3 linked regions of the Homo sapiens genome follow. The protein of the gene in region 2 interacts with the protein of the main gene of each other region in a pairwise test. Each region holds a gene or a part of one and is shown on either strand. Other genes may lie near its edges. The genes, in order: SCMH1, UBQLN1 and LHX5.

Evidence for each region.
Region 1: the proteins of UBQLN1 (region 2) and SCMH1 interact in binary tests that used the Homo sapiens proteins (3 or more experiments, as listed by UniProt).
Region 3: the proteins of UBQLN1 (region 2) and LHX5 interact in binary tests that used the Homo sapiens proteins (3 or more experiments, as listed by UniProt).

Annotation. Positions count from the first base shown.
Region 1 is NC_000001.11:41,113,243-41,116,896, forward strand, and holds part of SCMH1 (polycomb protein SCMH1), read right to left. Parts: intron 312-3,654; exon of another isoform or gene 285-311; coding exon 41-284; intron 1-40. UniProt on the Homo sapiens protein: Associates with Polycomb group (PcG) multiprotein complexes; the complex class is required to maintain the transcriptionally repressive state of some genes.
Region 2 is NC_000009.12:83,666,320-83,669,973, forward strand, and holds part of UBQLN1 (ubiquilin-1), read right to left. Parts: intron 3,009-3,654; coding exon 2,866-3,008; intron 2,313-2,865; coding exon of another isoform or gene 2,211-2,312; exon of another isoform or gene 1,189-2,210; intron 115-1,188; coding exon 31-114; intron 1-30. UniProt on the Homo sapiens protein: Plays an important role in the regulation of different protein degradation mechanisms and pathways including ubiquitin-proteasome system (UPS), autophagy and endoplasmic reticulum-associated protein degradation (ERAD) pathway.
Region 3 is NC_000012.12:113,465,313-113,468,966, forward strand, and holds part of LHX5 (LIM/homeobox protein Lhx5), read right to left. Parts: intron 3,093-3,654; coding exon 2,815-3,092; intron 2,110-2,814; coding exon 1,944-2,109; intron 1-1,943. UniProt on the Homo sapiens protein: Plays an essential role in the regulation of neuronal differentiation and migration during development of the central nervous system.

The sequences.
Region 1 (3,654 bases), on a different chromosome or scaffold from region 2:
TCTGGGTCCTGATTTCAAGAGCACGTAGATGGGCCTTTACCTTTGGTGCCAGGAGGCTGCAGGTTGTCTCCAGTCAAGGAACACCAGCCCACAGGGAAGATGTCTCGGGAGTCGAAGCGGCACCAGTAGTCAAAGGCCCCTCGCCACCCATCAAAAGTGACAAGCACCTCTGAGCCCCGAACCTCCCCAATAGTGGCTGGGCAAATGAAATGAGGGTTCTTCCTGTCCACAGCTTCTAGCTTCATTCCCATTTTGAAGAAGTTGTGGGAAGGCGATGGTGGCTCCTAGATGAGAAACAGAAACATACACACCTAGACACAAAGAGAGGCCATTATGCCAATAGACTACTATCTAATTTGGATGATTAAAAAGTGACTGCTACATGAGACTTATAATGGATATATAGCCTTTCTTTTAAATTAATTTTAAATTCAATATTTCAATATTTAAAGTATTACTTTATTAATCCTAACATTTTGACAACTTTGCTTCAGATTTTTTAAAAAGGAAATAAAAGGTTGCAGATAAAGTTGAATCTCCCTTTCTGCCCTTCCCATATTCCATTCCCCCTCTACCTACCACGGAGGTAACAGCTACCCATGCATGTTTTATATTTTACTATATACATACATACCCATTTGCCTGCTTTTAAATTTTATATAAATGGTATTATACTGTATATATCATTGTACAATTTGCTTTTTGTTTAGCAGTATGTTTTTGAAATCTGCCCATGTTGATAAATTTAGCTCTGATTCATTTTAACTTGTAATAGTATTTCATTGTATATATATATCGAAATTTATTCATTCTCCTTTGGACACTTAAAGATCTTTCCAATTGTTTACTATTTTAAAAGAGTTTTAACCACCATCCTTGCACTTCTTTGTATATGTGTAGGAAGGTTTCTTTAGGTTATACATCTAGGTGTAGAATTCCTGAATTCCTGGGTTATAGGGTAGATATATACATCTTCTGCTTTATCAAATATTTTTAACTTGTACTCCAAAGTGGTTGTAACATTGTATACTTTCACCGGAAGTGTAGAGAGTTCCTGGGTGCTAATTTGTAATGCAGTTACATAGATCAAGTTTCAAAAAATGTGTTGTACATTCTATTCTGTTCCCTTAATCTTACTATCTGATCCTGTACCAATAACATAGTCTTATTAAATGGATATCTGATAGGAAAAGTCCCCCTACTTTGTCATTCTTCAATATTGTTTTTGCTATTCATTCTCTGTCTTTCATATAAATTTCAATCAGTTTTTTCGAGTTCCATATATAAACCCTATTAGGATTTTGACTGGAATTACAACGAATTTATAGATAAATTTGGGTGGAAATAACCTTTATTATATACTATCAAGCCTTCCCATCCATAAACATGATAGTCTTTTCCACTTGTTAAGATTTCCTTTCTCTCTCTCTCTCTCTCTCTCTTTCTTTTTTGGAGAAAGGGTCTGGTTCTGTCACCCAGGCTGGAGTGCAGTGGTGTAATCCTGGCTCACTGCAACCTCTGCCTCCCAGGGTCAAGTGATCCTCCTACCTCAGCCTCCCAAGTAGCTGGGATTACAGGCACACACCACCACACTCTGCTAATTTTTGTTATTTTTTGTAGAGATGGGGTTTTACCATGTTGCCCAAGCTGGTCTCGAACTCCTGACCTCAAGTGATCCGTATGCCTTGGCCTCCCAAAAAGTGCTGGGATTACAGGCATGAGCCACCGTGCCTGGCCAAGATTTCTTTAATGCAGATTTCTTCAACATACATTTAAAAATTTCCTCTATAAATATCTCATGCTTTTTTACTAACTTTTTTTCTAGGCAAATTACAATTCCATTGCTATCATAAGTGGCATTTAAAAAATTTATTTTCAAATCATTTAAATTTAACTGTTGTTAAATGCAAATAAAGTGATTTTTAAAAATTGACCAACTTATTCGATACTGATTATTAGCTTATGCTGATTGACATACCAATTCTTGTGTGCTTGATTTATCAATTGTTAAGAGATAAGTCTTCAAATATTCCCTAGTGATTTGTGGATTTTCCAATTTTACCATGTAATTTTGTCAAATTTTGCTCTATTATACTTTGAGATTACATTTTCTAGGAGCATGTACATTTATGACTGTTTTATCTTCCTGGTGAACTGTACTTTATGATAATTAGATAGTGACCTCTTTAATGCATTTTATTTATTTATTTCTAGAATCAGGGTCTTGCTCTGTCACCCAGGCTGGTGTGCAATGGTGCAAACACAGCTCCCTGCAGCCTCAATCTCCTGGGCTTAAGCGATTCTTCCACCTCGGTCTCCCAAGTAGCTGCGACTACAGGCACGTGCCACCACTCTTAGCTAATTTTTAAATTTTTTCTAGAGACGGGGTCTTGCTACAGGTGGCCCAGGCTGGTCTCAAATTCCTGGACTCAGTGCTTTTAGCATCATTTAGACTTTTAGTATCAAAGTCTTGCGTGATTTCCGTATAGTTTATGCCAGCTTTATTTTGATAAAAGTTCATCTGGCACATCTTTCATATTCTTTTATTTTCTTTTTTAAAAATTAAAAAATTTGTTTTCCATCATTCCCACCCTCTGTAGATTTCTTTTACTTTCAACATTTTTGTCATTATGTTTAGTGTCTCTTATACATAGCATATAGCTAGATTTTTAAAAATCTGATCTATGTATGATTATAATGAGCTTAAGCTCATTTCTTGTGATAATTGATGTATCTGAATTTATTACAACTACCTTATTGTCTATGTTTCTATTTAATTTGAATTTCCAAAGTTCTTTTTTCTCCTTTTCAATCAACTAAGTTTTCTTCTATTTTCCCCCTCCACTGATCCGGAAGTTAAACATTCTACTTGGAGTCTTTTGGTAGATCCCTTTACTGCACAGCTGGCATAACAAAGTCTAAAACTCATCTTTATTTCTAGTCCCAAAGAATACAAGAACTACTCCTGAGTTACATAAGTGCTAGGTAATTCAGAAGCAGGATGCTCTTAGTGTTGAGACTTAACTAGCAGCATAGGCAAACCTAATTTAATACCCTTTACAGTAACTTTTACCCCATTAGAAAATTCAACTGATAGACTCACTGCCTCACTTCTTGAGAAGCAATAACAAATACAGGTTTTGGATCCCTGTTCTGCCGCTTACTAGCCACGTGATCTTGAGCAAGCTCCTAATTCAAAAGTATTTGTTTCCTTAACTATTAAATGGAAATAATAATTCTTAGTTCATAAAGTTAGCTGTGGGTATTACATGAGATAGTATATATAAAGTCCCAAACATATCGTAGGCAATAAAAAAAGTCTCCTTCTTTTCTCTGTTTAGAACATGAACTCTACAGAACTCCAAGATCTATAATAAGAATAGCGCCTTTAGATTTGTATTACATTTAACATATTCTACTAATAATACATTTTAACTTCTTAACAAGCCCGACAGGTAAACAGAGATTACTGGAAGCTGGGACCATATAATCTAATCTATGGGACCTTATAGTCTAATATATTCCTCTGGGGATAATTGCTGCTTCATAAGCTACTAAAAAATCCTTCTGAACTAATTTCTGAGAAGGCATCTTCAGGCCATAAGTAAATGTGGACATCAAAGTCTCAATATTTGACCTTAAGCAGCCTGGAGC
Region 2 (3,654 bases):
CCAAGATAGCTAACATCTTGTCTTACTCACTTGTTGGAGGAAAGTTGGGAGCTGTTGTCTCATTTGTTCTTGAAGCTGAGGATTTCCAGCAAATAGGGGATTATTCAGCATCATCTATGGGGCAAGTGTTCAAACAATTTTAACTGGAAATATCTGAAACAAGTAATGTACCTTGTTTTATTCTATCTTCCCCCAAGTGCCTCAGCTGGCACTTAAAAGGGAGGAAGGTAGAACATAAATAAAAAAAGGAAAAGGGAAGATACTGTCCACAAGAGGGATCTCCAGAAGAACAAAAACAAAAAAATGAGGCATATTCTCTCTCAATGAGAATGGTGGTTATGATAATGACATGCAATATCCTAAAAAATAAAAGCAATCATTTTCTTAGGCTTTTCCTTGAACAAACGTGAATATATGCCATTGAAAGAAAAATGGGAGTAACTGGCATTCATGAAGATATATTTTCTACTACACTGGCAGAATAAACATAAACATCAATACATGAACTATGTAACATGGCTTGCTTAGAAACCTCAACACACAAGTGGCAGGCACAGAGAAAATCTAGATCTGAAAAGGACCACTACATCTACCTGCCTACTACAAAACAGCTAATATTAGGTCCAAAAAAATAACACCGCAAAACAGCAACCAACTTGCCAGAGAAATGGAGCTGCTAGGTGAAAATCAGTCAGGCCTAGCACCAACAGTCCTCTGGGAAAAGTATTAAAATGATTTAAGACCTAAAAGATGTAAATCCATTTGAGAACACCAAGATTAGCATCTGGATTTCACCTCACTACTACCAGAGATGAGAAAAGTGGCATCTCCTAAACTTCAAATAAACGTTAAGAATTTAAAAATCAGGATCATTATTAGTATGATGTCATATACCTGAAAATAAGATTAAAATACACAAGGAGCATAACCAGAGCTAATAAATTCTTGTAGCTTCAAAAGACACATTTTATATCATTTTCCCCAGGCGGAGTAAAAAGTCAACTAACAAGGATTTACTGATAGCCTATTTATCTATCCAAAGTCTGGGGAGGAAATGATCCTTGCCCTCAAGAAGTTAACCGTATTTAAGAGCAATGTAAATGCTGGTAGAGAAAATTCGCCCCAATTCTTGCAAAGTGATCTTTTAGTTAATTTCAATACAATAACAAAAGCAGATGTCAGACAACCTTTCAGGAACATACAGTATTTATTTCAAAGTGACCAGTAAGTTCACAGTAAGTAAACTCATACAGGCTTAAGGTCAACAAACCTGCTTCTTTATTGGTTCCAAATACTTATCATCAACATATTAACGAGGTTATCACACATATCTTTTGGAATTCACTTCATTTCATCTTAAAAAAGCATGTCATCTTAAACGTATCCTTTCACAGATAATCATCTTATTAGATACTTCTTATAACTTACCTGAGTGCTTATACCACAAGTTTTTACACTCAAGAGTCTTTTTAAATATTTAAAAATCAAAAGAATAGAAAAACCACAAATTTTAATCTGCAGATAACAAGAACATTGTAAAAGTTTCTAAATTATCTGTAATAAAAGACATGCCAATCTAGTACTAGCAACATTTTGTTTTAGAGTAAAAAAATAGTATGTGAGTGCTCAAGTCACTTTACTAAAGTAAGATTATTACAAAATTGCTACGCATGTGCTTGTTAAAGTCAAATTTTAAAAGCAAGATGCACATTCAGTATTAGCCAAATACACACTTAAAATGGCTTATTATGGTAAATTGAAGCATTTAATACTAACAACTCAGTCTGATAAGTTTCATATGCATAAATCAATCTTCCATAAAATGTACCTCCAATATACAGAATCACAGACACAAAAATTCTTCTTAAAATTTGTTATTTCCAATTCCACAAATTTGGTGAGGGCATAAGTTATTACTGAGAATTATACACAAAGATACCTGAATCAATATAGTTTTAGAATTTAGAAAATAAAAACCATTCATTTGACTTAAAGCTTTTAAAATTTAAGGGATGAGATTAACTATAAAGTCTTCCAAATTCCTGACACACTACAGAAGCCATTTTTAACGAACAGCAAATATAAACTACAGATTATCAAGGTTTATTTCACATTCTCCGTGGTTTTTCAAGCCCTGTGGTATGGAACCTAGATAGTACCTAGGCAACTTGAGGGAGAAAGGGTTATCGGACGCAATTATCTCAAAATCTCTAAGGATGAGGCCCCAACCATCGGTACTGTCTATAAAGCTTCCCAAGTGATCCTGAGTGTTCAGCCAGCATTAAGATCCCCAATTTTCTTAGCTGTGGTCTCTTTAGAAACAAATTAGAAAAAGGAATACATTAATAAGGGACCTGTATACGATTTTCAGCAGGGGAATCAATAGTTGAAAGAAGGAGAACATTGTTCTGACAAATTCCCGTCTTTAATAAATGCTATTTTACAACTGCCATTCTGAGCATGACTATTATAATCTGAGTGATCTACTAAATAAAAGTATTTCAAATGTATTAACATTGCTCTTAATTGCTTTCAAGATTTACATTTCATTAAGTAGTTTATCTTCAAAAGAGTGGGCATTCCAGAACTCTGTACTTGTCTCCTAACTCAACATATGTAGAAACAAACTAAACCTGCACTTCTTTCTAGTCAATGAATGGCAGAGATAAAGTTGTTTTAATTACATATGAAGTATTAATTTACTGCAAAGAAACACACGGTCTAAAAAATTGGAGACACAGTTTACTTATTTTTCTAGTGTATTAAGATATCATACACAACACAAATGTGCCAAAATCACAATTACAAGATTAGGTTATTTTAATTCACACTGCACAGTCTTTTTCAATACAATTACAAACTCACCTGTGCAGCAAGGTCAGGATTCTGGCTTAGTGACTGCATCATGCTTCTCATGTAGGGGGCAGACAACATGTTTTGCATCAGTTGTGGGTTTTCAGTTATTTGTTGCAACAAGCTCTGCATTCCTGGTGTGTTGAACATACTAGCTGAAAGTTTGTTTTTAAAAAAGACATATTAAGGAAAAATACTTAAACAAAAGTTAAAGCTTTAAAATATAATATGCACTGTGTTTAATTTCACCAAGTACAAATGATTATACATATTATGTATCAACTGAACTACGAAAGAACTTTAAAACTAAAACATCTCTAAAAGTACATGCCCAACATATACCAGGAAAAGAGGACTGATGAGTTTAAACATTCTGCATTTACAGTAAAATCTTGTCTAATGAAGAGCTAGCTTCTGAAGTCAACTTAAGGCAAAAATTACGTATGGTCAAAATTACTGCTGAAAAATTCCATAAAGTGAAAAGGACTGAGCCAACTTTTCCTCCAAGACTGCAAAGAATTAATTAGAATCATATTCGGCACTTAATATTGCCCACCCTTATGAAAGAAGTAAGCCTTCATGCCCAAGGCAACAAAAGATGTAATGCCTCCACCCATTTTCACTGTGTACTGCCACTCACTGAGTAAAATGGTAGGCACATTTAACATTTGAAACCATAGAGCACAGTGACTCCAAGCAGTATCAGGAGCCTGATTACGTGGGTTCAAATCTAATCTAACCCATGTGATCTTGGGCAAGTTATCTAGCGTCTTCATACTTCAGGTTCCCCATCTGTAAAAT
Region 3 (3,654 bases), on a different chromosome or scaffold from region 2:
AGCCGGAAAACCAGCGAAGGCCGCTGCCCCCGCGCCGTGCGCGCCGCCTCCGCCCATATGGCGGCCGGGCCGGAGGTAATTGGAACAAACGCCGTCTGAAAAGGGCACAAAAGCCGCAGCTGGGGCTTTGTCCGCGCTCCCACGGGGAGCCGCCGGCCCCGCCGCCCGGCCCCTTTCTCGCCCGCTGCCGGTCGCCACCGCCGGGATCTCCCAGCGCGGATTAGGCGGGGCTGCCTCGCTGGGGGCTGGGGAGTCTTCCCCACCATTACGGGGAACGAGGGGCCCCCAGTATCCAGCTCCCCACCTCATCCAGCGCGCAGGGAGAGGAGGCGGTGGGATAGGTCGGGGCGGGGGCGAAGTGGTCCTCGGGGAAACCTTGGTTAATTATCCAGGCGGGGAAAAATTCCGGGCCGGTACCGCCCCCACTACCTCGCTGCTCCGGGCCCAGATTTTGTAGGGAAAGAGGCAAATTTAGGTGGAGAGAGTCGGTGAGTGGAGACTCCGGAAGACACGCCCACCATCCGGGCTCTCCAGGGTTGGGGGTCTGTCCGGGGTTGGGGGTCTGTCCAGGGTTGGGGGGCTGTCCAGGGTTGGGCGGCTGGGGCGCTCCAGCCTGAGCCCTGCCACTGCCTGGGGTCTCTGCCCTGAAAAGCACAGCCTGGCATTTTGCCCACAATTTCTAGGGGCCCCGGTCCGGTCTCAAGGTCTAATCCCCCCTCAGGCTTCCGGATGTGCTGAGGTTAGTGATGGGGTTATCTTCCCTTCCCTTCTGCGTCTACCTGGGTGCCTAGCTCCTGCCTTGCTAACACTGCCACTGAACCCACTTTCTAAGAGAAATTGCCTCTTCCTAACCTGCGTTACAACTCAGAAGTGCAGATGCCTCTCAGACATAGACAGTCCTGGGGTCTCTCCAAATTCAGAAGCTTCAGAATAGAAGAGGAGAGGTGCTTTCTTGAGCCCTCAGCCCTGGGAAGAACAGGACAGTGAGCTTGGTGAGCTCAAGCAATGCGGCTCAGGGTAAGGAGCTGAAAAAATCGGATAGGGGGAGTTGGGATGGCTCACCAATCCAGTGTGAGGGAAGTGAGAGGAGGAAAAGCTGAGGTGGCAAGGGGACAGCTCACCCCAGGCCCAAGCCTGGTACCACCATCTGAAGCCCTTTGTAAACTGGGGCTCCTCGCTCTCTGCAGCCCCAAAGACGGTGGAAATCTGGGGTTGGCCCAACACTTGTGCCCCCAGTCTGTAGGAACCCCAGGGGTCTCGGGGCTGGAGGGTGGACTACAGTCCTGCCCAGAGCAACTGCCGGCATTTGGGCTAACACTGCCAGATGCTGTGCGCACACACCCCGCCACATGGAACAGGAGTTGCTGCCTTCGATGCTAGTGAGCAGGCGGCTTGGAATGAATCCAGACCCCCATCCCCTCCCCTCACACTACCCTCCAGCGCTCGGAATCCACCTCATGCCAAGTACACCAGGCACAGGGCGGCAGGAAGGCTGTGCGTCTGTCCGTGGGGGCCGCATGCATGTGGATTTGCCAGTACTGGCCTCAGTGTGACTGGTGGGAGTGTGCGCGTCTGTGGAGTTGTGTCTCCGTGAGTGTACCTGTGTGTGAGAGGGTGGAATTTACCTATACGTGATCGTGCGATCGTGTCTAGACGTGTGTCCCTGGAGTCTCTGAACGCAAGTGTGAGTGCACCTTGTGCCCTGCGTGGGTGAATGTGTCACTGTATCTCGTGTGTGCTTCTGTGTGCATCACTGTATGGGTGAGACCATGTATCTGATTTTGTGTCCAGGACATGTGGGTGAGTGTACATGTGTCTGTGATCGTGTGTCCAGCGAGTGGGCGATGTTCTGGAGCGGCGGAAAGCGTGCTGGCCGGGACCCTTCGCCCTCAGCTCCCGGAATAGGACAGGTGCGGAACAGCGAATCCCGGGGCGCCCCTTACCTCCGTAGTAGGTGTACGGGGTGGACCCCAACATCTCAGACTCGTCCAAGCGGCCGCCCAGCGGACGCATGCGCCGCGGACTCCGGAAGAAGGCGTGCCTCCGGGCGCCTAGGGCGCTCAGCTGTTTCATCCGGCGTTCTTTGGACCGTCGGTTCTGAAACCACACCTGGGACAGAGGAGGGGGCTGTGAACCCAGGATCAGGAGTGTCCTCTCCCCCCCTCTTCTCCCTTCCCTGACTGGGCTGCCCCTGCTGGGTCCTTGCGCCTCTTCCGCACCAGGACTCCCCCGAGGCGGGGCCGGGCCGGATTAGGCCGGGAGGGGTGGAGAGAGGCTTCGGCGAACCAGCCAAGGGTGAAGGATTTCGCGGACCCGTGGGGCGACTCATAAAGACTTGGGCTTCCTGGTCCCCGGCTCGCCCGCGGCCTGACGGCTCTATAAAGGCCTCCCTCCCGGCACGGCTCTCGCCTCGGCCCCTCGGCTCCGGAGCCAGCCTCTGGCCGTTTGTCTGCCCGCGCTTCGGCGCAGGGAGGGAGGGGGCATCGCCTGTTTCTCTGCTCGAAAGGTGGAGGTAAAGAGGGATCCCGGACCCCAGAGAGGCTTACAACCTTCCATAAGCAAGGCGGGGGGCGGAATTCAGAGAGGTAAAGTGACCCGCCCCCAAATCGCAATACCAGGAGGACAGCAGGGCTAGATGGAATCTTTCGGTTCACAGTCCCCGACCTCGGGCAAGTGCCCCACTCGGGCGCACGGTCTGCTCCCAGACCAGAACCAGGCGCGCTCGTAGCCAAGGAAGCTTGGCGGGAGACTCCTCCGAGGCTCCCGGCTCCCAGGCCAGCGGGGCTAAGGAGCTGTGCCCGCCCCGGGCCGCACCTGGATGACGCGCATGTTGAGGCCGGTCTCCTGCGCCAGCTGCTCGCGGATGTGGCGCGTGGGCTTGGGCGTGGCGGCGAAGGCAGCCTTGAGCGTCTCCAGCTGCTTGGCCTTGATGGTGGTGCGGGGGCCGCGCCGCTTGGTGCCCGAGTTCTGCTCCTCGTTCTCGTTGTTGGCCGTCTCCTTGTCCGACGAGGTCGAGTTGTCCGTCTCTTTGGGGTCGTCCTGCAGTGCGTCCTGGAGGTCCGGGGACAAACTGCGGTCCGTACAGGATGACACTGCGGGCGGACGGATCGGGAAGGGGACAGCGGCGTCAGCGACGGCCAGACGCCTCTTCAGTCCAGTGGCGGGTTCCCGCCGGCCCAAGCTACGGCCTGCCCAGGCTACGGCCAGCCCCGCTGGATTCCCTCCCAAACCTGCGACAGCCCCTCCCCCAGGGACCCGGTGCCCGCCCACTCTCTCCAGGCGGGGCTGGGCCTTTGGAGGGGCGCTCTTAAGCCCTCTCCGCGCGTCTCAGCTAGTACCTGGGTAAGGGTAGGGGGACGCGTACCCTCTGGAGAACTCCCACTTTCAAGGAGAGGGGACAAGGAGGGCACAGATTCCCTTGGGGCTTGGATCTTCCTCTCTCTTCCCTCCTCTCTCCAGACCTCAATTAATGTCCTTCCAGTGCATCAAGAAATTACCTGGAGCTCAAGTGACACATAAGGGGGAATTGTGCGCTTCCAAATTAGGGGAGGAGGGCAACTTGGAAAAGGCTCCTGAATTGGAGGAGGGTGAGGCAGAGCTGGCAGGTCTCAGATCCCCTGTAAAACCTGCTCCAAAGCCACTTCTCTTCTCTAG